Homo sapiens: one gene and its partners. The protein of the gene in region 1 interacts with the protein of each later gene in a pairwise test. Each region holds a gene or a part of one and is shown in the gene's direction. Other genes may lie near its edges.

Region 1 (8,359 bases):
CTTAACTTCATGATCCACCCGCCTCACCCTCCCAAAGTGCTGGGATTACAGACGTGAGCCACGGTGCCCAGCCGAGAAGCTTTCTTTTTAACCAGTTTGAATTTATGAACTTGATTATTTCTTTCTGTGTAATAACAAACACGTCTTTGGTACCCAATACCAGAGAATGGAATTTGTCCACAATAATTCTAATTGAGTGCTGTCATATTTTGGGACTAATTTTTTTGGCCCAGGCAAGTGGCTCAAGCCTGTATCCTAGCTTTTTGGGAGGATGAGGGAGGAGGATGCTTGAGACTAGGAGTTAGAGACCAGCCTGGGCAACATGGTGAGACCCTGTCTTTACAAAAAAGAAAATTAAATTAAAAAAAAATTTTGCAAAATATTTGTTATGAGTATTTTGTCCCACATTAACAAAAATAGTAGTCTGCCTTTTTTTTTTTGAGACGGAGTCTCACCCTGTTGCCCAGGCTGGAATGCAGTGGTGCGATCTCAGCTCACTACAACCTCCGCCTCCTGGGTTCAAGCGATTCTCCTGCCCCAGCCTCCCAAGTAGCTGGGATTACAGGCGCGCACCACTGCACCCAGCTAATTTTTGTATTTTTGGTAGAGACGGGGTTTCACTATGTTGGTCAGGCTGGTCTCGAACTCTTGACCTCGTGATCCACCCGCGTCGGCCTCCCAAAGTGCTGGGATTACAGGCATGAGTGACCGTGCCCAGCCTAGTAGTCTGCCATTTTGAAATGCTGTATTTTATGAACTTGGTATATCTTTTTTTTTTTTTTTTTTTTTTTTTGAGACGCAGTCTCGCTCTGTTGCCCAGGCTGGAGTGCAATGGTGGAATCTTGGCTCACTGCAACCCCTGCCTCGCAGGTTCAAGCGATTCTTCTGCCTCAGCCTTCTGAGTAGCTGGATTACAGGTGCCTGCCACCACAGCCAGCTAGTTTTTGTATTTTTAGTAGAGAAGAGGTTTCAACGTATTGGCCAGGCTGGTCTCGAATTCCTGACCTCAGGTGATCTGCCTGCCTCAGTCTCCCGAAGTGCTGGGATTACAGGCGTGAGCCATAGCACCCGGCCTGAACTTGGTATATACTTTTATAAAAGAAAAGACTTTCAAGTCATATATATTAACTGAGGCATTTCTTTAATGACCCTCTGACCAAACTAAAACTTCCTGCTGTGAAGTTTCAAAATGGCATCCCATTGAGTGACTCTATATATAGAAGAATCTAGCAATTCCTTTTCTGTTTGCTCACAATTTTAAAGATGAATCTTTGAAAGTTAAAAGGGGCTCAACACCTTCTGCCCCCCAGTGTATACAATAGTTTTTTTTTTTTTTTTTTTTGAGACAGGGTTTCACTTCAATGCCTAGGCTGGAGTGCAGCGGCACAATCCCTGCTCACTGCAGCCTTGATATTCTGGTCTCAGGTCAGTCTCTCACCTCAGCCCCTGAGTAGCTGGGACTACAGGTGCATGCTAACCACACGTGTCAAAAATTGTTTTTTTTCTTTTTTTTTTGAGAGAGAGTTTTGCTCTTCTCCCTCAGGCTGGAGTGCAGTGGTATGATCTTGGCTTGCTGCAACTTCTGCCTCCCGGGTTCAAGTGATTCTCCTGCCTCAGCTTCCCAAGTAGCTGGGATTACAGGTGCGCGCCATCATGCCTGGCTAATTTTATATATATATGTTTTTTTAAAACAGGGTTTTGCTCTTGTTGCCCAGGCTGGAGTGCAATAGTGTGATCTCTGCTCAGTGCAACCTCCGGCTCCTGGGTTCAAGTGATTCTCCTGCCTCAGCCTCCTGAATAGCTGGGATTACAGGCGCACGCCGCCATGCCCGGCTAATTTTTTGTATTTAGTAGAGACAGGGTTTCACCACGTTAGTCAGGCTGGTCTCGAACTCCTGACCTCAGGTGATCCACCTGCCTCGGCCTCCCAAAGTGCTGTGATTACAGGCGTGAGCCACTGCCCAGGCCTGTATTTTTAGTAGAGATGGGGTTTTACCATGTTGGCCATCTGGTCTTGAACTCCTGACCTCAAGTGATCTACCTGCCTCAGCTTCCCAAAGTTCTGGGATTACAGGTGTGAGCCACTGCGCCTGGCCTAATTTTTGTATTTTTTTGGTAGAGGTGAGGTTTCACTGTGTTTCCCAGGCTGGTCTGGAACTCCTGGGCTCAAGCGATCTGTCCACCAAGACCTCCCAGAGTGCCGTGATTACAGATGTGAGCCACCATACTGGCCTATGATACTTTTTTTTTTTAAGTGTACTTTTCACTCAAATTTGCAAGAATGTAGCAAACCAAATAAAGCATTGTTCACTGGAAAGCGTAGTTTGAGAAGGCAGTAATTAGAGGTGTAGACTTAATATGAAGCCATTTGTTGAGTTTTTTCGTTTGTTTGTTTGTTTTTTAAGATGGAGTCTTGCTCTGTTGCCCAGGCTTGAGAGCAGTGGTGTGATCTCGGCTCACTGCAACGTCCGCCTCCCAGGTTCAAGTGATTCTCCTCCCTCAGCCTCCCGAGTAGCTGGGATTACAGGCGCGTGCCACCACGGCTGGGTAATTTTTGTCTTTTTAGTAGAGATCTGGTTCACCATGTTGGTCAGGCTGGTCTCGAACTCCTGACCTTGTGATCCACTCATCTCAGCCTCCCAAAGTGCTGGGATTATAGGCGTAAGCCGTCGCACCCACAGTGATTTAAAGGAATGTAGTGTATATATTTGAGAAATGCATTTATATCTTTAATTCTGGAAAACACAGCATTAACTAACCTCCAGCATACCTGTTGCTTAACTGTGTTACAGTTGTTACAGGGAAATTCCTGAAATGTTGAATACGTTGCAACCATGTAGGATAATTTTTTGTTGATTCTGAGAACATAAACTTTCTTCCAGTATATTCTCACACCACCAGATGTGTGGGGTTTTCCCCTGCGCATCAAGCAAGCTATTCAGCAGTGGACACCACATGGGTATCCTCTAATTCAGTATTATTCTGACACGGTGTACCTGAAGATAGCATCAGATCCCACAGGTTGAAAGCTCAAGTCCCATAGACAGTCCCCCACTTCCAATGCTAATCTCAAGTCCCAGGTGGTTTTACCTGTGTTTCTGACCAACTGACTATAAATTGAGTTCCTAATACCCCCTTCTTTTGTTCAGTTAACTTGCTAGAGTGGCTTATGTAGAACTCTCGGAAATACTTAGGGTTTTTTTTTTTTGGAGCCGGAGTCTTGGCTCTGTCACCCAGGCTGGAGTGCAGTGGCACGATCTAGGCTTGCTGCAACCTCTATCGCTCTGGTTCAAGCGATTCTTCTGCCTCGGCCTCCCAAGTAGCTGGGATTATAGGCATGCGCCACCACACCTGGCTAATTTTTTATATTTTTGGTAGAGATGGGGTTTCATCATGTTGGTCAGGCTGGTCTCGAATTCTTGACTTCAAGCGATCGACCCACCTCAGCCTCCCAAAGTGCTGGGATTACAGACAGGCATGAGCCACTGTACCCGGCCAACACTTAGGTTCAAGAGTTTATTATAAAGGATATGGATGAGGAGGTGCGTAGGAGAAGTAAGGGCCGCGGAGCTTCCATGCCCTCCCCTGGCTACACTGTGCCTCAGCTATCTGGAAGCTCTCTGAACCCAGTCATTTATGGGCTTTTATGGAGGCTTCATTACAGAGGCACAGTTGGTTAAATCATTGACCTTTGGTGGTCACCTTAACCCTTAGCACCTTTTCCCTCCCTGGAGTTTGGAGGAGGTGGGGCTAAAAGTCCTAATCCTCTCATCTTGCCTTGATCTTTCAGGTGACCAGCACCCATGCAGAAACTACCTAGAAGTTGCCAAGCTATCAGTCAACTCAGCATACAAAAAGAAACTTACCATTCTAAGGATCTTAGAAGTTGTATGCCAGGAAATGGGATGAAGACCAAATGTATATCTCACAATAAATATTACAGTAATGTTGAAGTAATTATTTGAAATATAAAAGTGGGATGGAAGTATTTTCTTTTCTTTTTTTTTTTGGAGGCAGAGTCTCGCTGTATCCCCCAGGCTGGAGCGCGATATCGGCTCACTGCAACCTCTCCTTCCTGGGTTCAAGCGATTCTCCTGCCTCAGCCTCCTGAGTAGCTGGGATTACAGGCGCCTGCCACCACGCTTGGCTAATTTTTGTATTTTTAGTAGAGACGGGGTTTTGCCATATTGGTCAGGCTGGTCTCGAACTCCTGACCTCAGGTGATCTGCCTGCCTTGGCCTCCCTAAGTGCTGGGATTTCAGGCGTGAGCCACTGCACCCAGCCAAAAGGATTTTCAAAGACGCTATCTAACATTCTTTTTTCTTTTTCTTTCTTTCTTTTTTTTTTTTTTGGGTCAAGAGTTTCACTCTTGGCGCCTGGGTTAGAGTGCAGTGGTGCGATCTCAGCTCACTGCAACCTCTGCCTCCAGGTTTCAAGAGACGATCCTGCCTCAGCCTCCCGAGTAGGTGGGATTATAGGTGCCCACCACCACATCTGGCTAATTTTTGTATTTTTAGTAGAGACAGGGTTTCACCATGTTCGCCAGGCTGGTCTCAAACTCCTGACCTCAGGTGATCCACCCACCTCAGCCTCCCAAAGTGTTGGGATTATAGGCGTGAGCCTATAATATTCTTAAGCTTTATATTCAGAACTCAGCAGTTTCCGAGTCAGATAATTAAACGTTTGTTCCCTTAGATTTATAGCTTCTAGGTTTTGCGTTTTTTTCTTAATTGATTTTATTTTTTAGAGCAGTTTTGGGATCACAGTAAAATTGATGAGAAAGTACAGAGGTTTCCTGTATTATCTCCTGCCCCAATACATGCTTTGCCTTGCCCATTGTCCACGCCCGCCCCCCCCCCCCCCCCCACTAGAGTGGTACATTTTTTGAGATACAGTCTCGCTCTGTCACCCAGGCTGGAGTGCAGTGGCGCCATCTCGGCTCACTGCAAGCTGTGCTACCCGGGTTCACGCCATTCTCCTGCCTCAGCATCCCTAGTAACTGGGACTACAGGCGCCCACCACCACGCCTGGCTAATTTTTTATAGTTTTTTAGTAGAGACGGGGTTTCACCGTGTTAGCCAGGATGGTCTCGATCTCCTGACCTCGTGATCCACCCGCCTCGGCCTCCCAAAGTGCTGGGATTACAGGTGTGAGCCACCGAGCCCAGCCTGTACATTTCTTACAATTGATGAATCTACGCTGATAGATCATCATCATCCAAATTCTCTGGTTTACATTAGAATTCACTCTTGGTGGTGTATCTTCTTTTTTTTTTTTTTTTTTTTTTTTGAGACGGAGTCTCTTTCCGTCGCCCAGGCTGGAGTGCAGTGGTGCGATGTCGGCTCACTGCAAGCTCCGCCTCCCGGGTTCATGCCATTCTCCTGCCTCAGCCTCCTGAATAGCTGGGACTACAGGCACCCGGCTAATTTGTTTTTTGTATTTTTTGGTAGAGACGGGGTTTCACCGTGTTAGCCAGGATGGTCTCGATCTCCTGACCTCGTGATCTGCCCGCCTCGGCCTCCCAAAGTGCTGGGATTACAGGTGTGAGCCACCATGCCCGGCCATGGTGGTGTATATTCTGTGGATTTGGACAAACTATAAGGCCTGGTTTTGCTAACAAGAATAGTTGCCAGGCGTGGTGGCTCATGCCTGTAATCCTAGCACTTTGGGAGGCCGAGGCGGGCGGATCACCTGAGGTCGGGAGTTTGAGACCAGCTTGACCAACATGGAGAAACCCCGTATCCACTGAAAATACAAAATTAGTTGGGCGTGGTGGCGCGTGCCTGTAATCTCAGCTACTTGGGAGGCTGAGGCAGGAGAATCGCTGGACCCTGGGAGGTGGAGGTTGCGGTGAGCCGAGATTGCACCATTGCACTCCAGCCTAGGCAACAAGAGCAAAACTCTGTCTCAAAAAAGAAAAAGAAAGAATAGTTAGCTGGGCCAGCGCAGTGGCTCACGCCTGCAATCCTAACACTTTTGGGAGGCAGAGGTGTACAAATCACTTAAGCCGAGGAGTTTCAGACCACCCTGGGCAATATGATGAAACCCCATCTCTGCTAAAAATACAAAACTTGAGGTGGGAGGATCACCTGAGCCTGGGGAGGTCGAGGCTGCAGTGGGCTGTGATCATTGCACTCCAGCCTGGGTGACAGACTCTGTCTCAAAAAAAAGAAAAAAAAAAAGTTATCTTTTTGTCTAGTTTCAGGCTCTTGTCTTTTTTGAAATAACTTTCTAACTAATCTCCATTATAGTTTCTTTATCATTGGTTTTTGGGTTTATTTCACAAATAATATGTGGATATTGTGATTGTAAAAGATTCTAGGACTGCAGTTAATTTTTTATATTTCTGCCAAAATGCCACTTAAATCATTGCTTTGGAAATATCCTTTCTTTGTTCAGAAGTCATTCTAATACCTTCATCTGGAATTATAAGTGTTGATTCCTCCTTCCCTGTGGTACTACTGTGTTGTATTATAGTCAAAAGACTGTTAAGCAGTGGTACCCAAATATATCTTTGTCCTCTTTTTTTTTTTTTTTTTTTTTTTTAAATGAGACAGAGTCTTCGCTGTGTCACCCAGGCTGGAATGTAGTGTCGCGAGCTTGGCTCACTGCAATACAACCACCTCCTTCCGGGTTCAAGCGATTCTCCTGCCTTATCCCCGCCGAGTAGCTGGGATTACAGGTGCCTGCCACACCACGCCCGGCTAATTTTTGCATTTTTAGTAGAGATGGGGTTTCCTCATGTTGGCCAGGCTGGTCCTGAACCCCTGACCTCAGGTGATCTGCCCACCTCGGCCTCCCAAAGTGTTGGGATTACAGGTTTGAGCCACCGCACCCAGCCTCTTCGTCTTTTTACATCTGGAATGTCATCTCTACCAAAACTTTATCATTCTAGTCCAAACTCAGGTGTACTGTCTATAAATACCTAATTTCCTTAAGCAAAATTGATTTTTTGCCATCCTTGGCCAGTTTCACTTAAGTGCACCCTACAATGCCTTTTAAGTTTTCTGTCCCATAGTGAGTAAGGAGTCTCTTTCCCCAGTGCATATATACAGTTGAACTGTAATTGAATAGTGCTTCATTTATTACAGTTGGGTAAATTGATAGAATATAGCATTCTTGGAAATCGATACTCTGGTTTTTCTTTTTTTCATACTGCTTGAATGAGCAAGTAACATTTCAGAGGAAAAGATCTATCGGTGGTGGTTCATTATGTAGGTCAGGATTTTAGTTTCATTTGTGCATTGGATTTTAGAATATCATGACTATCTCTAGTAATCTACAGAGTTAAACTATTTACATCTTGGCAATTTCTTGAATTAATTAGGGAGATCTTTCTTTACCCCCAACCTTTTATTTGGATAGAGTTTTCTTAGTTGTGACCAAAGCAAATAAGGTTTTTTTCCCAGCAGTTTTTTGGACGACTAGAAACAAGATTTGAATTTTTCATTTCCTCACTATGAAAATGCAAAACTTGGCTACGCGCGGTGGCTCACGCCTGTAATCCCAGCACTTTGGGAGGCCGAGGTGGGCAGATCACAAAGTCAGGAGTTCAAGACCAGCCTGGTCAATATGGTGAAACCCCGTCTCTACTAAAAATACAAAAATTAGCCAGGTGTGGTGGCGGGCGGCTAGTCCCAGCTACTTGGGAGGCTGAGGCAGGAGAATTGCTTGAACCTGGGAGGCGGAGGTTGCAGTGAGCTGAGATCGCGCCACTGCACTTCAGCCTGGGTGACAGAGCGAGACGCTGTCTCAAAAAAAAAAAAAGAAAGAAAATGCAAAACTCTAGTGTGACCAAAAGATGCTCTTTTACAATTAATGGTCAGTGTAATAATAATAAATTTGCAGTTCTGCTGAGACTGCCTAAAGATGAAGGGACTTGAGTTTTAACAAGTTCTTTAGCATCGTAAATTGAATTCTGAGATTTGAGAGTTTTCTCTTGGTGTAGTTCTTTTTAAAATAAAATAGCTTCAAGAAGGCTACTCTCTGTTATTTTGTTTTTTGAGACAGGGTCTCTGTTGCCCAGGCTGGAGTGCAGTGGCACGATCATGGCTCACTGCAACCATGACCTCCTGAGTTCAAGCCATCCTCCCACCTCAGTCTCCCCAGTCAGTGGCTGGGACTACAGGTGTGCACCACTACGTCCAGCTAATTAAAAAAAGTTTTTTTATAGTGATGGGGGTCTCACTATGTTGCTCAGCCTGGCCTTGCACTCCCAGCCTCAAAAAATCCTCCCACCTTAGCCTCCCAAAGTGCTGGGATTACAGGCGGGAGCCACCATGCCTGGCGTGGATTAGATTAATTCTTGTAAAATATTTAAGGCACATACACAAGGCTGTTAAATGTTACAAGTTATTGA
Region 2 (8,359 bases), on another chromosome or scaffold:
AAAGATGACATGAATATAATGAGAAAGATGAGAATTTTGCTGGAAAAGATACATAAAGATACAAGAAAATAAAGGGTTCATTATTAATTGTCATCAGTATTCCAACCAGTGATGTAAGGAAAGTTGTGGGCTTAATTTCTTGGTTGCATGAGGAACTGCTGTTCGTGGATTCTTGATAAAATAGAGAAATGGAATGCTGTGAGGTGGGGCAAGAATTAAATGAAATAAGGATTAGGAAATAGAAAGTGAAAGAAAGATGATGAAATCTTCCAGTGTCAGGGAAATTGGGAAGTAGAAAAAAAATGCCATCTTTACAAAAAGTCATAATGAAGCAATTATGTTCATTGAGAAGGTAAGATGAACATTTTTAGAACATTTTTAAAATGAGGGTGTGAATTTCATGAATAACTAATGTCTTTTCTTTTTTTTTAGTCTTTGGAGGATTGTCCTCTGGATGAAGATGAAGATGCATTTCAGGGACTGGGAGAAGAAGATGAAGAGATTGATCAATTCAATGATGATACATTTGGGTCAGGTGCAGTTGGTAAGTGACATCTTTCGCTTATAATATCATCTTAGCCTCCTGCTCTTTTCAAGTGCTGTCTTTTAGAAGTGCTTTATCTTATTAGGGGTAACCTTATTCACTAACTTGGCAAGATATTCTTCTATTCCTCATCTTAGAATAGTTCATTCTTCACTGGAAACAGCACCTATCCTGCTCCTCTGGGTCTCTTTTTGCCTTACCTATAAAATCAGGTATTCTGTAAGCCTTGCCCCTTCCAGCTATATGATCGATGACTACAGGTTGCCCCTATGAGGGATTCAAATGTTTAGAGAAGTAAACATTTAAGAGAGATTTAAATTAATCCTAGATGAGAGGAATTTTTATTTGTATAACATATAACTTATGGAAAACTAGTGTACTAGTAGAAAATTCAGATTCTAGGATGTGGGTATATGTGTTTCAAAATTTAGTCTATCACTAGTATATAACTTTGCAACTTATAGTATCTTCAAAATATAAAGCTTTTTATAGCAAGAATTTTGGGGGTCAAGAAAGGACTCATAAGTTAGAAAAGTATGCACAGATGAAATTTTGTCCATCCCTGGGTATAGATACATATTATTTATTTATTTATTTATTCTTTTTCGAGATGAAGTCTTGCTCTGTCACCCAGGCTGGAGTGCAGTGGCACGATCTTGGCTCACTGCAACCTCCGCCTCCTGAGTTCAAACAGTTCTCCTGCCTCAGGCTCCCGAGTAGCCGGGATTACAGGTGCCCGCCACCACACCGAGCTAACCAGGCTGGTCTCAAACTCCTGACCTCGTGATCCGCCCATCTCGGCCTCCCAAAGTGCTGGGATTACAGGCCTGAGCCACCGCGCCCAGCCTATAGATACATATTTTAAGAGTTGGAAAAAGTTTAAAAACTGAAGAGCCAAACTAAGGTTACAGGCCACGGGGTTATAAATGCCAAGATGGAAAATTTAGGAAGTAAGCTTATATGATAAAGTTTGAGAACACATGTTACTTAGAACAGGTGTAGAACAAGTGGAGTAATAAATTGAAATTTAAATTTTTAAACTGTATACATACACATATATTTGTTTTGAGACAGAGTCTTGCTCTGTCACCTAGACTGGAGTGCAGTAGCATGATCTCGGCTCACTGCAGCTTCTGCCTCCCCAGTTCAAGCAGTTCTCCTGTCTCAGCCTCCCAAGTAGCTGAGAACACAAGCGCCCGGCTAATTTTTGTATTTTTAGTAGAGACAGGGTTTCTCCATGTTGGCCAGGGTGGTCATGAACTCCTGACCTCAAGTGATCCCTCCTCAGCCTCCCAAAGTGCTGGGATTACAGGTGCAAGCCACCACGCCTGGCCAAAACTGTATATTTTTAAGCAAATGAATAGGTAAGAGTCAATGCAGATATGTTTGCTTAGACTTGGTGCTGGAAAGCAGCAATAACAGCGTTTATGTTCAAATGTATAAATGTGTGTGATTCTTTTGTAGTCGCAACACTTCTGTCTGTGCAACAAATACTCCAAGTTAAGTCATAAGGAAAAAGAGAAAATTTAGCAATAGTCAGTAATCCCAAGATGTTGAATATCAAAAACAAATAAGAGGCCTTAAAGTATTATAATGGTCACTGGTTTTGCAGTGACCTAATACATTTATTAAAGCTTAGACTGACTTGAATAAACTGGCAAAAATGAAGGTGTTTTAATATTGTCAGTCATTTGTAAAATTCATTAGAGAACTAAAACTTTGTTATGATTAGAAGCAGCAAGAAAAGTGTTGAAAGTAGAAGCTAGACTCATGATGGAAAGGAATCAAAGACCTTTTGGATTATAGGCATGGGTTAGGAGATGAGATTGTCCAGGAGGATAACATGATCCAAGATGCTATTATCTCTCTCCATGGAGATCACAGGCAAAGAGATGTAGAGTGGAATTACAAAAGCAGGAAACTGATGTGAATTGCAAATTATATTTGGAAGATAGTTTAGTGATAATCAGTAGGACACAATAAGCTATTTGTGGTGGTTCAAGCCCACAGCTCTCAGCACTTTGGGAGGTCAAGGCAGGAGGATCACTTGAGGCCAGGAGTTCAAGACCATCCTCGGCAACATAGTGAGACTCTTTCTCCACAAAATTTTTTTTGAAAAATAGCCAGGCATGATGGTATGTACCACTTAGGAGGTTGAGGCTGAGGCTGGAGGATCCCTTGAGCCCAGGAGTTCAGGGCTGCATCAGCTATGATGGTGCCACTGCATTCCAGCCTGGGTAACAGAGCGAGACCTTGTCTCTAAAAAGTTAATTAAATACTTTAAAAATAGAATACCATAGAAGCTACCAACATGTGCTTGTTTCTAGAACTCTTTTTCTATTAAAATACTGTACTGAATGTTAACCATTTTTTCAACAAATTCTTCAGTATTAAAATGAATTAGCTAGAATTGATTTATAGACATTAAAATGAGGCAGCATTGTACCATGTTCTCAGTTTTCAACCTGGACAGAAGAGGAAGAGTCATACCTTCTCATTGACTTCCAGAGTGCTATGGACAGTCTTTTTTTCCTGAGTTTCTATTTTTTCTCATAAGATGGGAATAATATTGCCTTAAAAGGATGTTAGAGTGTCCGGAACGGTATTTTATATGATGGGAAAGAAGAAAAGTGTACACGTGCTGAAAAAGCCATTAGGTTTACACAGTAAAAGAACAGGTAGTACAAAGTTAAGGCAATTAAATAGCATATGATTAGCCCACTTTGTACCTTAGGGCCAAAGGGTGATTAGAAAGGATTTTTTGGCCAAGAAAGTTTATAATAATATAGAGAAAAGATTTCCAAAGGTGAGCCCTTTCCCTTGAGAGTGTAATGTACTGGAATTGTAAAGTGAAGATCTTAATTCCTCATAACAGCTTGGTGTAAATACTATAAAAAGAAAATTGTTTTCCAAGTCAACCTGTGACTTCTTTGATACTCCTCTGCAGGTTGATATAAAGCTGGTATAGAGAGTTTAAATCAAGAGGTGAAATGTCAGACCTTTGACATTTGTTTTGATTTTATGATTTTTAATTCATATAGCGGGCATCTGGAATAATACCTGCTATTACAGTAGACATTTTAGGTCACTGGCTACAAATGGTCACCTTTCCTTAAGAAACTAGTCTTCTGCATGAAAAAATGTTTGCATCATCTTAGAGCAATAAATAGTGTTGCAGTAATCCCAACTCCTTCTCTAAAAATAAAAGCTTACACTTAACATGGTGCTTATTATGTGCTAGGCACCATTCTAAATATTTTACATATATTGTTAATCCTCATAGCAGCCTTGTGAGATAGGTACTATTATTATCCTCATTTTAACAAATGAGGAAGAGTGACGGGTTAAGTAACTATAGACACAATTACTGTAAACTACTAGTTATGTTTAATAGTTTTGGGGGAGTCTTTGGAAATCTCCTGCCTCCACTTGGAAGGAATCACCCTCCTTCCTACCTCCCTTTTATTGATAGCTACTATAGTCTTTAGAGATTGAGATTGCCTTAAAATTAAATCACTTCTTCCTTTTTATTTTGTTTTCATTCAAAACTCCCTGAGACAGGCTTCAGGGGTTATTACAAGTATAAGTTTATAGAAGCAGCCAGGAATTCAGTAACCCGTATCAGAGTATAGGTTAGTTCGTTATTACGGATAATCTCTTTCCCTTCATTTGTCTGTTATTCTTTTGCCTACCTTTTATCATTTTGACCAATAATGGACTCAGGTCAAGCACTGGCATATCTAAGTAACTATATTTTTAGGTCATTTGAAAAAGATACAGGGTGAAATATTGTTTTATAGTAAGGGCACAATATCTCTAAAATACTACTTCAGATAATTTTTTACAAGAGTAAGAAAAATCTAAAATGATGATGATGGTATTTTATGGCATAGATTCCTCTGGTTACATGTTTGAAAATGTAACAATCAATTCACCAGAGATCTATTCTCACAGAATATGGCGACTTAACCAATATTTTTAAAATATTATTATTAAGGGGAAATAGATTATCCATATTTGATAGGATTTGGTAAAGTTAGCAAGCATGAATACTGGAAGTAGTGATAGAAAAGCATGCAAATTAGAACTCTACTGCATTAGAACAAATCCACTAACAAATTAACTTCTTAAATTTGGGAAGTAAATGTTTTTACAAATCCCTCAATTCAGGATGATAGATTCCCACTCTTGTGGCATTGCTAAGTTAGTAAAGTTGCAAAAAACAATTTATCCTGTCCCAGCTTACTGTTCCTTACCAAGGATGACACAAATATGAATGTCACATTTGGTTTTTAATTACATTATTCTTTAAATATTTTCTTTCATATGACTAGTCATTTAAATTAACACTGTAATTTTCATTTAAAGTGGATTTTTCCATTTTTTGGAGCACATCAGGATAGGCTTATCAGAGACCATCATCATAAAATGGCTACCTTAAATTCTTTTCTGTAAGATGACAGTTTAGAGGAAGAGTGCCACCTGACTAGTCACTCAGGTAAGAGGAAACTATTGGGTGGGAAAGAAAATACCACATAATTATAAAGAAGACCCATGTCCCGGAGGCTTAAGTAAGGATATTTTTATAGCTTTTGCCCACAGTCTTTATCCCAGTGATGGCACAGTGATCCACAACTTAAGGAATCCCTTACCACAACTAATACATAAATCAACCAAACTAGGCAGTGGGTCCTATGATACCAAAATTATATATTTGAAAGTCCCACTTCCCTCACTCTTTGGATCACTAGTATTATGTGATACATCGTTGTATGATTAAAAATTACATATATATAGCAAATTTTAACTGTTAATGTAATCTGATTCTAAAAGGAAATTAGTTTATTTAAATAGTCACATAAAATGCTAAGATATGTATGATGTTATTACAGTATTAATTATTATATTGGAAAATTGTAAATAATCCAAATGTTTACCAGTAGGGGATAAATTACATTATAGTTTAGCAATAAAATGCAATCTTATGTAGGTATTAAAAAGAATGAGTTACTATCAGTAGTTATGCCTGTGTGCATGCATGAAAAGATGTCCAAGACATATTGCTTAAATAAAAAGAAACAAGTTAACTTTATAAACTTAACACAGCTTAAAACTGTTTAAAACTTAACACAGCTGTGGAATTGTGGGGAACTTTCACTTAAGTTACATGTGTTTATGGTGTTTGAATTTTTTAAACATGTATTTTCTCTGAAAGCAGAAAAAAGAAAGTCTCTGTTTCTGTGTTGGTTATAACCTGTTATCCCTGTCTGTTGAATTTTATAAAACATATAAAGGATGTAACTAAAAAAAGAATACCATATAACATATACAAAATAATACTTTTTGTGGGTTAGAAAGTAATGCATATAGAGATGAGGTAAAGGAAGAAATAAAATGAAAGGATTATTTAGGAGTAGCTCCATTGAGGAGGAGGAAGAAGTTTCACATTTGAATACCTGAAAAGAAAGGCCAGAGGCAGTGGCTCAAGCCTGTGATCCCAGCTCTTTGGAAGGCTGTTGCAGGTGGATTGCTTGAGCCCAGGAGCTTAAGACCAGTCTGGGCAACATGGGGAAACCCCGACTCTACAAAAAATATAAAAATTAGCCTGGTGTGGTGGTACAAACCTGTAGTTCCAGTTACTTGGGAGGCTGAGGTTGGGGGAATCACCTGAGCCCGGGAGGTTGAGACTGCAGTGAGCCAGATCACGCCATTGCACTCCAACCTGGACGACAGTGAGACCCTGTCTCAAAAAATAAAAATAAAAATACTGAATGGAGCAAAACTGTGAGTACAGCTTTCATGATGGAAGCAGAATGGAATAAGATTGGAGAGAACTGGAGTGAGATGCGTTGGAAGTAAGGTCTAGCTCCAGAGCAGCTGATAGAGGGTTCTGAAGATTGTAATCTGTGCTGTAATGGGATTCCAAAACAGAAAAAATGATGCCAACATACCAAATGCAGAAACAACCTTAATGTCAGTGCTACAGACTTTATAGTAGTGTGCAGTAATAGCAGACATAGTTAAGATAAAAGAGGAAATGCCCCTTCCTCTTCCCTAGCCTGTTTTCAGCACAGCAGCCAGAGTGATTCTTTTAAAAGTTAAGCCAAATGAAAATTTCCATTGGCTTCCCATTTCAATCATAGTGGCCCAGAATGAGCTCCCTCCTCATGACTTCTTGACCTCATTTTCTTCTACTCTCCCCACCCTGCTCATTCCATTCCAGACACAGTCCTCCTTGCCGTTTCTCAAAACCATCAATCTCTCACCTTAAGGCCTTTCTTTATACTGACTGTCCCTCTGCCTGGAACCCTCTTCTCCCAGATATCCAAATTGCTAACCCTCTTACTCTTTAGAATCTTTGCTCAAATGTCATCTTCTCAATGAGGCCTACCTCTGACCATCTATTTAAATTTTCAATCTGCCTTTCTTCCTTTATATTCCTACAGCAATTTCATCTTCTGGTATAGTATCTAATCATTATGCTTATTGTCTATCATCTCTCTCTTTCCTGCTTGCATGAAAGTGTTATGAAGGCAGAATCTCTGTGTCTTTTTGTACACCAATGTATCCCATGCGTCTAAAACAGGGCTTGTCACATAATAGATGCTTACCAAATATTAATTGAATGGAACGAATGGATTCAAAAGCATGTAAAGAATGTGGCACTTAAAATCTAAGAGGAAGTTGTATGCTAATGCTATGAGTTTTAACTTCCCTTTAAAGTTTTTGCTTGAAATGTCATAGAATCTCAAAACCAACTAGTAGTACTATACATATCTATCACCAATTTGGGAAACAGTTTCAGAATATAGTTTGGACATTATTGATAATGTTTTAAGCTATTAATTCACATGTTTGAATTTTATTCCTGGTATAATGTTATTTGCTTTTACTTATAAAAAGCATGCTTTACGTGTCCCTTAGTTTAAACCTTATTTCCTGTTTCTAAGTGTAAACTTAACTTTCTACCTATCTTCTGGAATTATTCATTTGCTTAGCAGAAGAATTGTGTAGGCCGGGCGTGGTGGCTCATGCTTGTAATCCCAGCACTTTGGGAGGCCGAGATGGGTGGATCATTTGAGGTCGGGAGTTTGAGACCAGCCTGGCCAGCATGGTGAAACCCCACCTCTACTAAAAATACAAAAATTAGCCAGGTGTGGTGGTGGGCGCCTGTAGTCCCAGCTACTCCAGCTACTTGGGAGGCTGACGCAGAGAATTGCTTGAACCCGGGAGGTGGAGGTTGCGGTGAGCCGAGATCACGCCACTGCACTGCAGCCTGGGCGACAGAGTGAGACTCTGTCTAAAAAAAAAAAAACAATAATTGTGTAAAACTTTTTTGTACCACTATGAACTATTTCTTACATGAACTGTGTCATCTTATAGATGATGATTGGCAGGAAGCACATGAGCGCCTGGCTGAATTGGAAGAAAAGCTACCAGTGGCAGTTAATGAACAAACAGGCAATGGAGAGAGAGATGAAATGGACTTGTTGGGTGACCATGAGGAGAATCTGGCAGAAAGGCTCAGTAAGATGGTGATTGAAAATGAACTAGAAGATCCAGCTATTATGAGGGCAGTGCAGACCAGGCCAGTTTTACAAGTAAGTAAGTTACTGTGATTTGAGAACTATAGCAGACTAAAAATTAAAGTGAAGTATTGAACTTTGCCATTTTATTTTATCTATTATAATGAGAGATTTACATATACCATAGAAAATTGATAATATATTTCCTGATGATAGAAGTTCTAGAGATAAACTTGGGGAATAATGTATATTCTGGAGCCCTATAATTTCGTATTCTAAAGCAGCTTGA
Region 3 (8,359 bases), on another chromosome or scaffold:
GAGACCCAACCATTGGTGACCCACTGGGCATTCATTTGGAAAAGAGCACTGTATGCAGTGTTGAGCACATTATTGTGGGTGGGGCAGTAGGGGGCATGGGAAGAGACCTGTTGGAAAGTTATTTACAGTAATCCAGTCAAGACATGAGGGTGCTTGGAACAGGGGCAGTCAGAGGGAAGTTTTATTTCTTGTTTTAATGGAAAAGGTTCTAGAAATACCCAATATGTAAACTCAACAGGCATGACTTCATCCTTATGGCATCCTATATGGCCATCCTTAGGGCACTTCAGCTATTGGGGATGGATATTGGCCTTTGTAGAAGTGACTTTGCTTCCTGCCAGTATTGCCCCATTGGTGGTTATTTTGCTGTGGCATAGTTGAGATCTACACCTCAAAGCCCGGGAAGGTCTGAGTAGGCGGCGTCATTGTAGTGGAAGTGGTTCCCTCAGAAGATGGACGTGCTTGTTCAAAGCAGTCTGGGCTGTACAAGTGCAGCTGATTGGTGACTTCAGCTAGAACTCAGATTGTAGCACTATGCATGTATGGTTTTGTTTGCCCAGGAAGCATATATTGTTTGCCTATATGTGGCAAGCATTTTGAATGGAAAACTAAAAAGATATTTGCCACGCCCTCAAGGAACTCACCTTCAGAAATTAGACACTTAATTCAGGGATCAGATGGGTTTTTAATCAGACTGCTCTGCCGCCTGATTTGTATCACATTTAAACATAAAAATTAAAAATTTTGAAAATATTTTTTCAATAGAAGAAAGTATATAGAAAATAATATAACTGTGTTCACAATAGAGATTTAACATAATATCATGCCATATTTGCTTCAGGGCTCTCTATTTTAAAAATGTTATAGGTATCATCCTCTAACCCCATTCTGGTCCCCATCCCACCCCCAGAGGGAACCACAATTCAAAAATTGTAGTGTTGTGTCACTTTCATCTACAGTGTGACATTAAAGTGCATTTCTTGATTATTAATGAGGTTGATTATTGTTTCATATGTTAATGGCTTATGAGTTTTCTCTTTTCTAAATTGCCTGTTCCTATCCTTTTCCCATTTCTGGTTGGGTTGTTGGCCTCTTTCTTACCGATTTTTAGGATTCTTTTTTTTTTTTTTGAGATGGAGTCTCACTGTGTTGCCCAGGCTGGAGTGCAGTGGCACAGTCTCGGCTCACTGCAACCTCCACCTCTTGGGTTCGAGTGATACTCCTGCCTCAACTCCCAAGTAGCTGGAACCACAGGCGTGCACCACCACACCCGGCTAATTTTTGTGTAAGTAGAGACGAGGTTTCACCATGTTGGCCAGGCTGGTCTCGAACTCCTGACCTCAGGTGATCCACCTGCCTCGGCCTCCCAAAGTGCTGGGATTACAGGCGAGAGCCACTGCGCCTGGCCGGGAATTCTTTAAGCTGATAACCATACATTATCTGTTGTATCTTCTCCCTGCCTGTGGCTTGTTTTTTTAGCTTTCATTATATGATATCTTTTGTTATATAGATGTTTTTAATATTAGCATAGTCAAATTTATCACCTGTTTATGTCTTACGTATTTCATGTCTTCTACAAGATGATACAATGTCCAAGGTCATAGAGATGGTCTCCTTTGCTTCCTTAATAAGCTTTAAGAAGTTTTGCTTTTCCTAATTCGCTCTTTACTTTATCTGGCATGTATACGATATAAGGGATCTACTTTCATTTCATGTGGCTAGACAGTTGTCCAACAGCATTTATTAGCCACCAGCTTATAATGCTATCCTTCTTTCAAACGTGTCATATAATTGAGTATGAACCTGTCAAATTGGGGGCTGAGCAATCCTCAAGTCCTCAAAGTAGACCATTAACAAAGGGCAGATCATTTTACAGTGTGACTGTTGTGGAATGGAACCAATAATACTGTGTATTCGAATGGCACCTCACATATGGAAAAGAATGCATTGGTCAGCCAGGTTGTTAACCCCCTGCTTTCTCGGTGTGGGTTGCAGTGAGTGCTGTCTTAGTCAAGAGGCAGCCTGCCTTATGGCACAACCTGTCCATGAGGGAACCCAAACTGATGGTAAAATGAAATGTGGTAATATTTGCTGGCAACAAGCCATAATCTCTGTGTGTTAACTTGGTCTTATTTTCTGTGTTAAATGAGGAATGGCTTATTTATCTCTTTAGTTAGTTATTATATTAGATAGTTTTTAGAGTATGTGCAAAACCAAATTGTCATAAACCAGGGTTATAGAGCCAACCCCTAATAATTGGCAGTGAAAAGAACCTAGTCATTTTATAGCAGTTTCAACATTTAAAGTTTTCTGTTGCCTGTCTTCATTTTTCCTTTGTAGTTTTCACCTGGAATTACGTACCTACTTTGAAATCACCTAGAGCATAATTCTAAAATCATTACATTACTCTTAAATCAGGCAATAAAAATCTCTTTTAGGTTGATATTAGCTTTAGTATGGTCTTTCTAATGCTAATTTTTTTTGCACACTTCCTTTTTTTCCTTTAGCTCCATCAAACTTTAAAAGAGAATTTATGTGGGAAATTCATGTTTTAATTGTCCATACGATTTTTCTTGTTAAAATAAATTTGAAGAGAACATAATTAAAAGGATCTAAAAGAGAAGAAAATATTTTATTGCAGTTTATTTGTATATTGTAGTATTTAGAGAAACTCACCAAGGATTTCTAAATCACATATGTGAGTTTGTTGTATGTTTGGGTTAAATTATTTTTTTAACATTTCTTTTACTTTATTTTTTAGTGATACATACTTGGAATAAAGTCTGCCAAAAAGTTGATCGAAATATAAGTTTGACTGCAATGTTGGAAATACTCAAATAATTGTTAAAGTCATAGGAAATAAAATGTAGATCCAAACAGGGGATTCTTTAAAAGGACCCGAAGAGTTAAATACTATAAGAAGATGGCATATAAAGTTATTCTAGGGATCTCCAAAGAAAAGGCTCTAAAGAAATAGAAAACAAGGATTGAGAGAATCTTTAGAGATCCAAAAAGATAGCACTTGTGGGGCTGAGATTCTTCTTCCTTCTTTTTCTTCTTTTAGTGATGTCCTTGAGCTACAGATTTTTTTTTTTTATTATGAATGTGCAGGAGACAGTGATAAACCAAATTGCAGATAAGATCAGATAAAGTAGTATACAGCTAATTAAACATTTCTAATCCTTAGTATTTTTGATAACATAAGATAGCATTGTCTCATATGTCTTTTCTCTCTTTCCTTCCGTCACCACTTCCCCCACCCCAAATATTGGTTCTGTTATGATTCTGCAATGCAATTTACAATTTTTTTCTACTGAAAGCCATGTTTCGCCTCTATATAATACTGTAACCTAATTAGAGGTCTTAAAGAGAACTACAAGTTTTATTCAAAACTCTACGTGAACTTACTGTCATTGCCAGTGTTTCTCAGTCTCTGTATTTATAGGAGTTGCAAAGTCACTTATCTTTCAAAGCTGCCTTTACTACAGATGCTTTCAGAGATGCTGATGTGCTAACGTGCATTGTGAGTATTCTCCAGGGGGAATAATAGTACAGTGTAGTGGTAAGAATTGATATAATTTTAAAAACATTAACGCTCTTTAAAATGGGATCTATTAAGAAGACAAATAGCTTTTTTCTTTAAGTCATTTTTTTAGTGTTTGTCATTCAGATTTGAAGACTTGAAATAAAGAGCTTCCCCAAAGACTAGTTAACAGTTGATTCATTGACAAATGAGTAGAAAATCTAATTTTGAATTTTGTTTCATCTTTTTCAGATCTCAGTCATAGTGGATTGGCAGATCATTATGAAAATTCCCACTGGGGACAGCAGCCTACTTACAGAAGCGAAGCCAACTGCAGCTGGGATAAAGTGATAATAGATAGGACTGACAAGGAGGCGTGGCCTTCCATCACAGGAACAGAGACTGAATCTGCCTCAGAATGTACTACAGACACTGACTCTGCCTCCAACTGTGGCTCAGAGAACAGTAGCATGGCTACAGGGAGTGCCCAGGGCAACTTCACTGGACATACCAAGAAGACAAATGGCAATAATGGCACCAATGGCGCACTCGTCCAAAGCCCTTCTAATCAGAGTGCCCTTGGAGCAGGGGGAGCGAACAGTAATGGAAGTGCGGCCAGAGTGTGGGGTGTAGCCACAGGCTCCAGCTCTGGCCTGGCTCACTGCTCTGTCAGTGGTGGGGATGGAAAAATGGACACTATGATTGGAGATGGGAGAAGTCAGAATTGCTGGGGTGCTTCCAACTCCAATGCTGGCATTAATCTTAACCTTAATCCTAATGCCAACCCAGCTGCCTGGCCTGTACTTGGACATGAAGGAACCGTGGCGACAGGCAACCCTTCCAGTATTTGCAGTCCAGTCAGTGCCATAGGTCAAAATATGGGCAACCAGAACGGGAACCCAACAGGCACTTTAGGTGCTTGGGGAAACTTGCTGCCACAAGAGAGCACAGAACCACAAACGTCCACTTCTCAGAATGTGTCTTTCAGCGCACAACCTCAGAACCTTAACACTGATGGACCAAATAACACTAACCCCATGAACTCTTCACCCAACCCTATCAATGCAATGCAGACAAATGGACTGCCAAACTGGGGCATGGCTGTTGGTATGGGGGCCATCATCCCGCCCCACCTGCAAGGCCTTCCTGGTGCTAATGGATCATCAGTTTCTCAAGTCAGTGGGGGCAGTGCTGAAGGAATAAGCAATTCTGTGTGGGGACTGTCCCCAGGTAACCCTGCCACAGGAAATAGCAATTCTGGGTTCAGTCAGGGGAATGGAGACACTGTGAACTCAGCATTAAGTGCTAAACAAAATGGATCCAGCAGTGCTGTGCAAAAGGAAGGAAGTGGAGGAAATGCTTGGGATTCAGGACCTCCTGCTGGTCCTGGAATACTCGCCTGGGGAAGGGGCAGTGGCAACAATGGCGTTGGTAATATCCATTCAGGAGCTTGGGGCCACCCCAGCCGAAGCACCTCTAACGGTGTGAATGGGGAATGGGGAAAGCCCCCAAACCAGCATTCCAACAGTGACATCAATGGGAAAGGATCAACAGGGTGGGAGAGTCCTAGTGTCACCAGCCAGAACCCTACCGTACAGCCTGGTGGTGAACACATGAACTCCTGGGCCAAAGCGGCATCTTCTGGAACTACAGCAAGTGAAGGAAGTAGTGATGGTTCTGGCAACCACAATGAAGGAAGCACTGGGAGGGAAGGAACGGGAGAAGGCCGAAGGCGAGATAAAGGGATTATAGACCAAGGGCACATCCAGTTGCCAAGGAATGATCTTGACCCAAGAGTTCTGTCTAATACTGGTTGGGGACAGACTCCTGTAAAGCAAAACACTGCCTGGGAATTTGAAGAATCCCCTAGGTCTGAAAGGAAAAATGACAATGGGACAGAGGCCTGGGGTTGTGCAGCTACTCAGGCTTCAAACTCAGGGGGGAAGAACGATGGGTCCATCATGAACAGTACAAATACCTCTTCAGTATCTGGGTGGGTCAACGCGCCACCTGCCGCTGTGCCAGCAAACACAGGTTGGGGAGACAGCAACAACAAAGCGCCAAGTGGCCCGGGGGTTTGGGGGGACTCGATAAGCTCTACTGCTGTTAGTACTGCTGCTGCTGCCAAGAGTGGCCATGCTTGGAGTGGGGCCGCAAATCAGGAGGACAAGTCACCCACCTGGGGTGAGCCTCCAAAGCCCAAATCCCAACACTGGGGAGATGGACAAAGATCAAATCCAGCCTGGAGTGCAGGAGGGGGAGATTGGGCAGATTCATCGTCTGTCCTTGGACACTTGGGGGATGGGAAAAAAAATGGATCTGGATGGGATGCTGACAGTAATAGGTCAGGGTCTGGTTGGAATGACACCACGAGATCTGGGAACAGTGGCTGGGGCAACAGCACAAATACAAAGGCCAATCCAGGTACAAACTGGGGGGAGACTTTAAAACCTGGCCCCCAACAGAACTGGGCTAGCAAACCCCAAGACAACAATGTGAGTAACTGGGGAGGAGCTGCTTCTGTGAAACAGACAGGAACAGGGTGGATCGGGGGGCCGGTACCGGTCAAACAGAAGGACAGCAGTGAAGCAACTGGCTGGGAAGAACCCTCTCCACCGTCCATTCGCCGCAAAATGGAAATTGATGATGGTACCTCAGCTTGGGGGGACCCAAGCAACTATAACAATAAAACTGTAAACATGTGGGATAGAAACAACCCGGTCATCCAGAGCAGTACCACGACCAATACCACCACCACCACCACCACTACCACGAGCAACACCACACACAGGGTCGAGACGCCGCCCCCGCACCAGGCCGGTACTCAGCTGAATCGATCACCGTTGCTTGGTCCAGGTAGGAAAGGTATTTCATGTTTCTTTACAAGTAAAAAAAAAAAAAAAAAAGCTTATTCTCATTATATATTCATGAATACTCCGAGTAGTGTTTTTTATAGCAAATAGCATTAAAATAATTTAAGTTCCCTATCACCGTGCAATATTGTATCTAAAGATTATCCAGTGAGAGCAAAGTAGGATCCTCTGGTGGTTTTCTATTCAAGAAAAAAATATATTAAGCACACTCAGTAGAACATCAAGCGAATGTTTTGGTGGTGGCGGTGGTGGCCTGGGGTGGAGATGATGGATTTGAAAGCAATGACAGTGCATGATTCCAAGATTTCGTAACCATTTGGATACAGGAGCAAAGAAGATAGGATAGACATGGTTCAGAACTTGGGCAAGTTGGCAGATGACTGTGTCAGTTCACTGACATGCCCATGAGCACAGCAGGAGGCACAGAGCTCCAAGTGTCCAGTGAGGACAATAAAAGGTCCCAGATACGGAAGACCAGTTCTCAGCCAGAGGGGCAAGGTCCAGAGTAGAGAGATTTTAAGGTGGCAAAGTCGTGAGCATGTTTCAGAGCTGTTAGAAAGGAACAAGTGGAGATGAGAATGAATGAAGAGGGAAGAGATCCCTGTGTCCAGCAGGACAAGGGCACTTCATCCATCTCGTGAAGCAAGGAGCAGGAAAGAGCGCTGCACAGGTGGGCCAGGCTGTCATGGCCAGAGGGCCAAGGCCACCTTCTGGGGTTCTTTTCTCTCTGGGAGTGTGAATACTAGCCCAGAGTGGAGGAGGGCTGGCTAGGAGCAGCAGCACGAGTAGAGAGGGAGCATGCATTAGCCCATGTAGAGGACAGGAACAGAGAACTGACTTGACTGGGGCCCCTGGAGGGTTGCTGGGCAATGTCAGGGCCCAGAGATCACCATACACAGTGAATTTATTGGGACCTGCCATGTACTAGGCTGTACTCTAGTAGCTGGGGAAACTGCAGGAAGCAAAACAGTCAAAACCCTGCCATGGAGGGGTCTAGATCTAGTGAGGGTGGCAAACAACACACGAATTAAAGTATATACGTAGTGTTGGGCAGTGATGGTGCAGGGAGGAAACAGTAAGCCCAGAAGGTCTGCATGCGGGGGCCACTGGAGTTGGGGAATCACCATCTTGTGTAGGGCAGCCTGGGCATTTGGGCACCTTTTTGGTTTTTGTCATAAGCGTTCAACAGGAGAATGTCCTGCCTGCTGCATTAATTCAATTATGACTGCCCTACAGGACCTCCCCTGGCCCACCAGCTGGGCCCTCCAGCCTCCTCGTAGACTTCTTGGTGGTTCACTTGTGTACCTCTCTGAGGCTGCCACATCAGGAATCCTTTATGGATCCTCAAGACAGTTTTAGCCTCCAGCTAACGCATCAGTGTCACTAAACCAGAGGTCAAAAATCAGTGGTCCGTGGGCTGCACCTAGTCCCACAAATGTGCCTTTTTGGCCCACATTTTTTCTGTGAATTGGCATTTTTTTAATGCAAATGTTTTATATTAAATTCCAGATTTCTGGCTTCCTTTGGAAACCTGAAAAGTCTGACATTGGATTCACATGGCAGCAGTCAGTCAGAGCCACTTGCCTTCATAAGGGCCTGTGCATTTTCTCCATACCATGTCACGTTGCCCCCCGACCCCTGACGGTTCCCAACACTGAGGCTTTTGATCAGTAGCCACTGAGCATCATCAAGCTTGCGCTGCTGTTCTTACGCTGGGCCTGTTTACGTTAACTGACTGGTTCCTTGGAGTACTTGAATTTGTGATTCCAATTGTTTACTAATATATGACTAATATTTCTAGGCCCTTACATTTTATAAAGTACTTGGGGGGATAAGGAGAAGCAGGAAGAAGGAAAATGAAGGGATTTGAAAAATAAGATTAGGTCGGGCGTGGTGGCTCATGCCTGTAATCCCAGTACTTTGGGAGGCCAAGGCGGGCAGATCATCTGAGGTCAGGAGTTCG
Region 4 (5,839 bases), on another chromosome or scaffold:
CCCCTTTCTCATTCCAAAGGCTAGTGTGGAAGCAGGGAAAGTGGCACAAATTAGGCTAGGAAAGAGAAGCAGAGGCTGCATCCTGAAAGGCCTTTTAGGTCTTGTTAAAGATCCAGATAAGAAGAATGCTTCATTCTGCTAGATTTGACATTTTGCACGGGGACCATTTGGTGTATGTAGTACAGACCTCATCCTACAAGCTAGTAAGTTTCACTTGTTCTGTTCTGTTCACCAAACATGACATAAAGGCATGTCTTGAAAGCACTGAGGATTTTAGTGTTGTCTTATACGGTGCTTATCTTTTTTTCTGTTGTTTTTCAGGGTATAATAGACTACATTTTCTATTCTAAACCTCAGCTGAACACCTTAGGCATCCTGGGCCCTCTGGACCACCACTGGCTGGTTGAGAATAACATCAGTGGCTGCCCGCACCCCCTCATCCCCTCTGACCACTTCTCACTTTTTGCACAACTGGAGCTCTTACTGCCTTTCCTGCCCCAAGTCAACGGCATCCACCTTCCTGGCAGGAGGTAGTCAAGCACCTTCAGAGGACAGCCTTGATTCACTTGTAAACTTGTGAAAATCTGAACATAGGGGAGTGAGGTATGGCCACTGAGGATTTTTGCTTGCTTAAGAATGATTTGGACTTTCAATCTGATTATTTGATAAGGATATAGTATGAAAGCCAGGTGCTAGCAACAGACAAATTCTGAGCCCAATATGCTTTATACTGCTAGACAGGGATTGGTGTGTTTGCACCTGTCTTTCATTTGTCATAAGAGATTTTCCTATTTCTTCTACCCAATAGAATATTTTCATGCCTGGAAATAGGAAAATGTGTGAACAGCGTATTCTCTTCACACAGAAATCTGTAGCACTGCTTTTTTGAGGCCAGTAGCAACATCCAGAGATCATTCTTCCATACTTTACTCCCTCCTTTTTCAGACTTGTTTGTAAAGTACAGAATCTGAATTTAGCCTTTATGATTGTATATGATCCACAGAAGACCTGATTTATGAAATTTTGTACTAAAATCATTTGGAAATGATTGTATTGTAAACTGAGGCTAAATTTTTTTTTAAACCTGTTTCATGTGTTATAAAGGCCAGCTTGTAAAAGAAGCTGCAACAGACTTTCTCTGCTCATGATTTGCACTCTTAGGGTTTTGTTAGCCCTTTTGTACTACTTTCTTTTTAAATTGAGAACATGGTTCTTTACATATAAATCTGCTTCAACCTTAGGATGTTTTCAGACCAGAGGCAACTTATTCATGAATTTTTATGAAAACTATCTACTAGGACAGATAAGCTGAACAGTGATGATCTGTAGACATTTATGGACTGAATGTAATGGTTGATATATGTACATTCTGATATTTTTAAATCTTTAACTTTTTAAAGTTAAAAACCTACAGCTGCTTAGGTCCAGCTTCTTAACTCTTTTTGAGACACTTCCTGTCCTATCTCCACTGTGCCTGCCTAAATTTGTTCTCACCAAGCACTGCCTGTGCATGCAGAGAAAATCTGTGCATCCTCTTTTATATTTTTAAAATACTGTTTAACATTTGTGAGAATTTTATGAAAATGCTTTTGTATGAGCTGTGGCTTTTTCCCATTGTGAAGCATTGAATATCACATTTTGGAACATGTTATAGGGTGAGTCCCTGGATCTTTGCTCACCAGATCCAAGCACTGCTTCTCGGTGTCATTGCAGTGTGCTGCTTGTCACCCAGAATACTACTATCATGTGAATTCTTTTTGTCGTCAGTGTCTTTTCCTTAGTCTTTTTGTTGTTGTTGTTGTTGTTGTTTTAATCATTCCTTTTTTAAGAAGAAGTAATTTTCCATTTATGAAGCAGTATGAATTAGATGTATTTTCAAAACAGGTCCCTAAGACAATTCTTCAGATCATTTTTAAAATGACTAAGTCATTTTAGTATGTCAAGCAAGATAAAAATTACATCATACCGTCTATTTTGCCCATAGTGCCATTTAGAGATGAAAACCAGCTTTAACTTTGCAAAGTGAACATGTACATGGTCTGCTCTCATTTATTCATTCTTCTCTCAAAAGTCAAATGAATGCAGAGGGAGCTTGGTCAAACTGCTTTTGTTTCAACTGCAGGCAGGGGAGCAAAAGGACGCCATGTGAGCATTAGGAAAAAAAATACTCACTCTTACTAACAATTTTTATACAGAAAATGAGTCATTTTGGAAATGATTCTTATGTTTTTTTTTTTTCTCCTTTTAGAAAATTCTCCAAAAGGTTTTGATGTTGAATCTTGGTCTTGGACCTGTTTTTTCCTTTGAGGGTTTTTTGTTTTTTGTTTTTTCTAGGATTTCATTGTGATGTTTTGGTTTTGTTTTTTGCTTTTTGTTTAAGTTGTGCTGACACCAAACACATCCAGTTTATAATCAGTACATTGGAAAGCTGGTATTGATGTAGAACCAGTGCATAACTTTTTATGGGGTTTTGTTATTGGTTTTTTTTTGTAAAGTGTGAATAAAAGGTATGTTTACTCATTTTTCCTGAACACTGTGTTGGTAATGTGCATCATGACAATTTCCAGTGAAGGTGAGCTGGAGCTGGTTGGACTAATGAGACTGAGGAAGCAGCTTTTCCTACGATCTGCATTATGTAATCACAGGTCCAGAGAGCTTTATGGAAGCGGGAGAGGAGGAGCACTTACTCATGTTGTATTTGTTAATGGAGGATGTCATCTTTTCATAGATGCTGGAACTAGAGTGCACTTGTTAGATGCTAAAGGTTTGAGCTTTACACAAAATGTCTTCATCTGTATTTGTTATTGTCTACAATATATTTGAATTTGGGGCAGCATATTAAGATGTAATGGCCTGTTATGTCTTGAAAATACTTGTTTTGCCTCTTCCAGGCATACTGCATTCTGTGGATCAGTTTGAACAGCTTCTCCACCTTATTTGGACAGTGATAAATTGAACCAAGAGTGTAGATTTACAAGTGTAACCTTCAAAAGAGGAAGAACTATTTGGGGTCTGTAGGTAATGAACAGTCACACCAAAATAGACTATGATGCTTTTGTTAAGAAAGGTTTCATGTTTTAGATATTTTCCGTGTCCTAAATAATTTTCAATAATCTATAATCCCTAAAATGCAATAAAAACTAGTATGTTTTCACGGTGTATATTTTTTTTCAAAAATTCTGTAACAAATATATTTAATGTGTTGCCATAATGTCATTTCAGTATTTTTGCTGGATAAATCCATTTTAGAAATGTCTTACAAAAAGTTTAGGGCATGTTTTCTGTTTTAAAGACCAGAAGTTTGAAGGCACCCAAATCCTTGTCGCCAATCTCCTGAAGTACAGCTTTACCATATTAGTGGTCATTATTTATGCTTTGAGAGTTTCAATATTGTTCGTCAAGTTAACTTATGGCATAATTTAAGCTAAAGTTGTAGAAATGAATTGTTGAGTGCAACTTTCATAGTCCCAAAGATAGGCAGAGAACATCTCCAGAAATGTGTGTGTGTGTGTGTGTGTGTGTGTGTGTGTTTAATATGATTTAGTGACAACCAGGAAAACTTACTTGGGATTATTAGCACTTTCAAACTTAGGGACATTATTAAATTGGATGGAATGCACTTCTAAATGTTTAAATTAAAATTTCAAAGCTCTTTCGAGATTCAGGTTCTCAATAATAATATTCAAGTTTTAGAGTTTCACTTTGTACTATTTAAATTTATGGAACTAGTTTCCATACTGACTTGTAAGGTTTTGGGGTCATATATAAGGACTAAAGCCAAGCTAGGCAAAACAATGACAGCACCGTTTTTTCAGTGAAGCTCTCAGAATGTCCAGTACAGATGTTGCAGATAATTCCAAGAACTCCTTCAGCAGGTGTTCTTCACCATTCGTAAACAGTATTTTAAGATGTTCACTTTGCTCTTCTTTTTGGTTACATACATTTTAATAACTGGTATGTTGAAGTAGTGTCTAAAAGTATCTAGTCTTTATTCACAGTACATTATATTGTGTGATGCACTGGACTAACTCTTGTTTACCATTCATGTAACAAAACCCAGCACATTATCTGCACTATAAGCTCAAAGAATGTCACATCCGCCCAGACAGCTCTTTGATGAGGGTGATGGGAACTGAATAAACCATACGGACTGGCAGTAACAAGGGCTTTTACTGTTCTGTTCAGTGGAACCTTCTTGGTCAAATTGTAATTAGCTAGCATTATATTTATATACAGGGTCTTTTTTCTTTACCGATGTATTTTCCTACTCATAGCCAACCAATAAATTCAGTATCTGTTTCAAATATTTTAGAAGTGTAGTTTGTATAGCTGTAGTACTGAGGTTTGAGGAAAAATAAATGTTGATCAGCAGACCACGTATTTAAAATTCTGAATCTTCTGGGACAGGGTTGTAACTCAGCCTTCCAAAGGGAAGAGTGCAGGGGGACGGGGCCATGATATGGGGAAATGGTGTAAACTAATGTATTTCTTTATTGGCTGTTATTCTGTATAACACTCATATCTTTGCCAAAGTTCAATTTTATATTTAGGCAACTGATGGTCCTTTTGCATTTAGGATTTTCGTTGTTGTTACCTTATACCTCATGATATAAGGAATGGGCTCATGTGTCTTCCGTCTTTTGGAAGGAGGTTGACATATTTTAAATAAATGCTTTTAAATACAGTAGCAAACATTGTGTTGGGGTTATAATAATTCATTAAATGTCTTGTTGCCTGTATTTTGTTGTATGTGTAAACTCTAAAAACGTGTGACTTCCTAAGTCTTCCGATGTCACCTTACAATTGAGAAAACAACATGAGTTCCTTTGCTTTTAGAACGACTTCCATAGCAGACGTACATTTTTATGTACATGTGGGAAAAACCATGCAAAATCTGGACAGTTTAGATAATATTTCCTTTGATCTCCAGTTTTTAAAGTAGGCATGTTCTACTTAATCCTTAATACAGTGATGCACATTAGGGGGATGTATGCTGAGAAATGCATCCTTAGGTGATTTTGCCATTGTGTGAACATCAGATTGTATTTACATAAACTAAATGGTGTAGCCTATTACACATCTCGGCTGTGTGCTTAGCCTGTTGCTCCAAGGCTAGAAACCTGTGCAGCATGTTACTGTATTGAACACTGTAAGCAGTTGTAAGACAATGGTAAATATTTGTGTATCTAAACATGGAAAAGACAGAGTAGGCTGGGTGCGGTGGCTCACACCTGTAGTCCCAGCACTTTGGGAGGCTGAGGCAGGTGGATCACGAGGTCAGGAGATCAAGACCATCCTGGCTAACACGGTGAAACCCCGTCTCTACTGAAAATACAAAAAATTAGCCGGGTGTGGTGGCAGGCACCTGTAGACCCAGCTACTCAGGAGGCTGAGGCAGGAGAATGGTGTGAAACCTGGAGGCGGAGCTTTCAGTGAGCCAAGATCGCACCGTTGCACTCCAGCCTGGGCGACAGAGCGAGACTCCGTCTCAAAAAAAAAAAAAAAAGTGAAAATACAGTATAAAAAGTGGTATGTCTGAGGCTGGGCACAGTGGCTCACGCCTGTAATCTCGTTTTGGGAGGCCGAGGTGGGCGGATCACTTGAGGCCAGGAGTTCAAGACCAGACTGCGCATCATGGCGAAACCCCATCTCTATAAAACATAGAACAATTAGCTGGGCGTGGTGAGACGCCTGTGGTCCCAGCTACTTAAGAGGCTGAGGTGGGAGAATTGCTTGAGCCCAGGAGGTGGAGGTTTCAGTGAGGAGATTGTGCCACTACACTCCAGCCTCAATGACAAAGTGAGACTCTCAAAAAAAAAAAAAAAGATACCTGAATAGG

Evidence for each region.
Region 2: the proteins of CNOT1 (region 1) and PATL1 interact in binary tests that used the Homo sapiens proteins (3 or more experiments, as listed by UniProt).
Region 3: the proteins of CNOT1 (region 1) and TNRC6C interact in binary tests that used the Homo sapiens proteins (3 or more experiments, as listed by UniProt).
Region 4: the proteins of CNOT1 (region 1) and CNOT6 interact in binary tests that used the Homo sapiens proteins (3 or more experiments, as listed by UniProt).

The regions. Positions count from the first base shown.
Region 1 is NC_000016.10:58,618,841-58,627,199, reverse strand, and holds part of CNOT1 (CCR4-NOT transcription complex subunit 1), read left to right. Parts: intron 1-8,359.
Region 2 is NC_000011.10:59,659,038-59,667,396, reverse strand, and holds part of PATL1 (protein PAT1 homolog 1), read left to right. Parts: intron 1-432; coding exon 433-544; intron 545-7,927; coding exon 7,928-8,145; intron 8,146-8,359. UniProt on the Homo sapiens protein: RNA-binding protein involved in deadenylation-dependent decapping of mRNAs, leading to the degradation of mRNAs. Acts as a scaffold protein that connects deadenylation and decapping machinery.
Region 3 is NC_000017.11:78,045,070-78,053,428, forward strand, and holds part of TNRC6C (trinucleotide repeat-containing gene 6C protein), read left to right. Parts: intron 1-3,775; coding exon 3,776-6,379; coding exon of another isoform or gene 6,380-6,388; intron 6,389-8,359. UniProt on the Homo sapiens protein: Plays a role in RNA-mediated gene silencing by micro-RNAs (miRNAs). Required for miRNA-dependent translational repression of complementary mRNAs by argonaute family proteins.
Region 4 is NC_000005.10:180,573,667-180,579,505, forward strand, and holds the end of CNOT6 (CCR4-NOT transcription complex subunit 6), read left to right. Parts: intron 1-321; coding exon 322-534; 3' UTR 535-4,692; downstream 4,693-5,839. UniProt on the Homo sapiens protein: Poly(A) nuclease with 3'-5' RNase activity.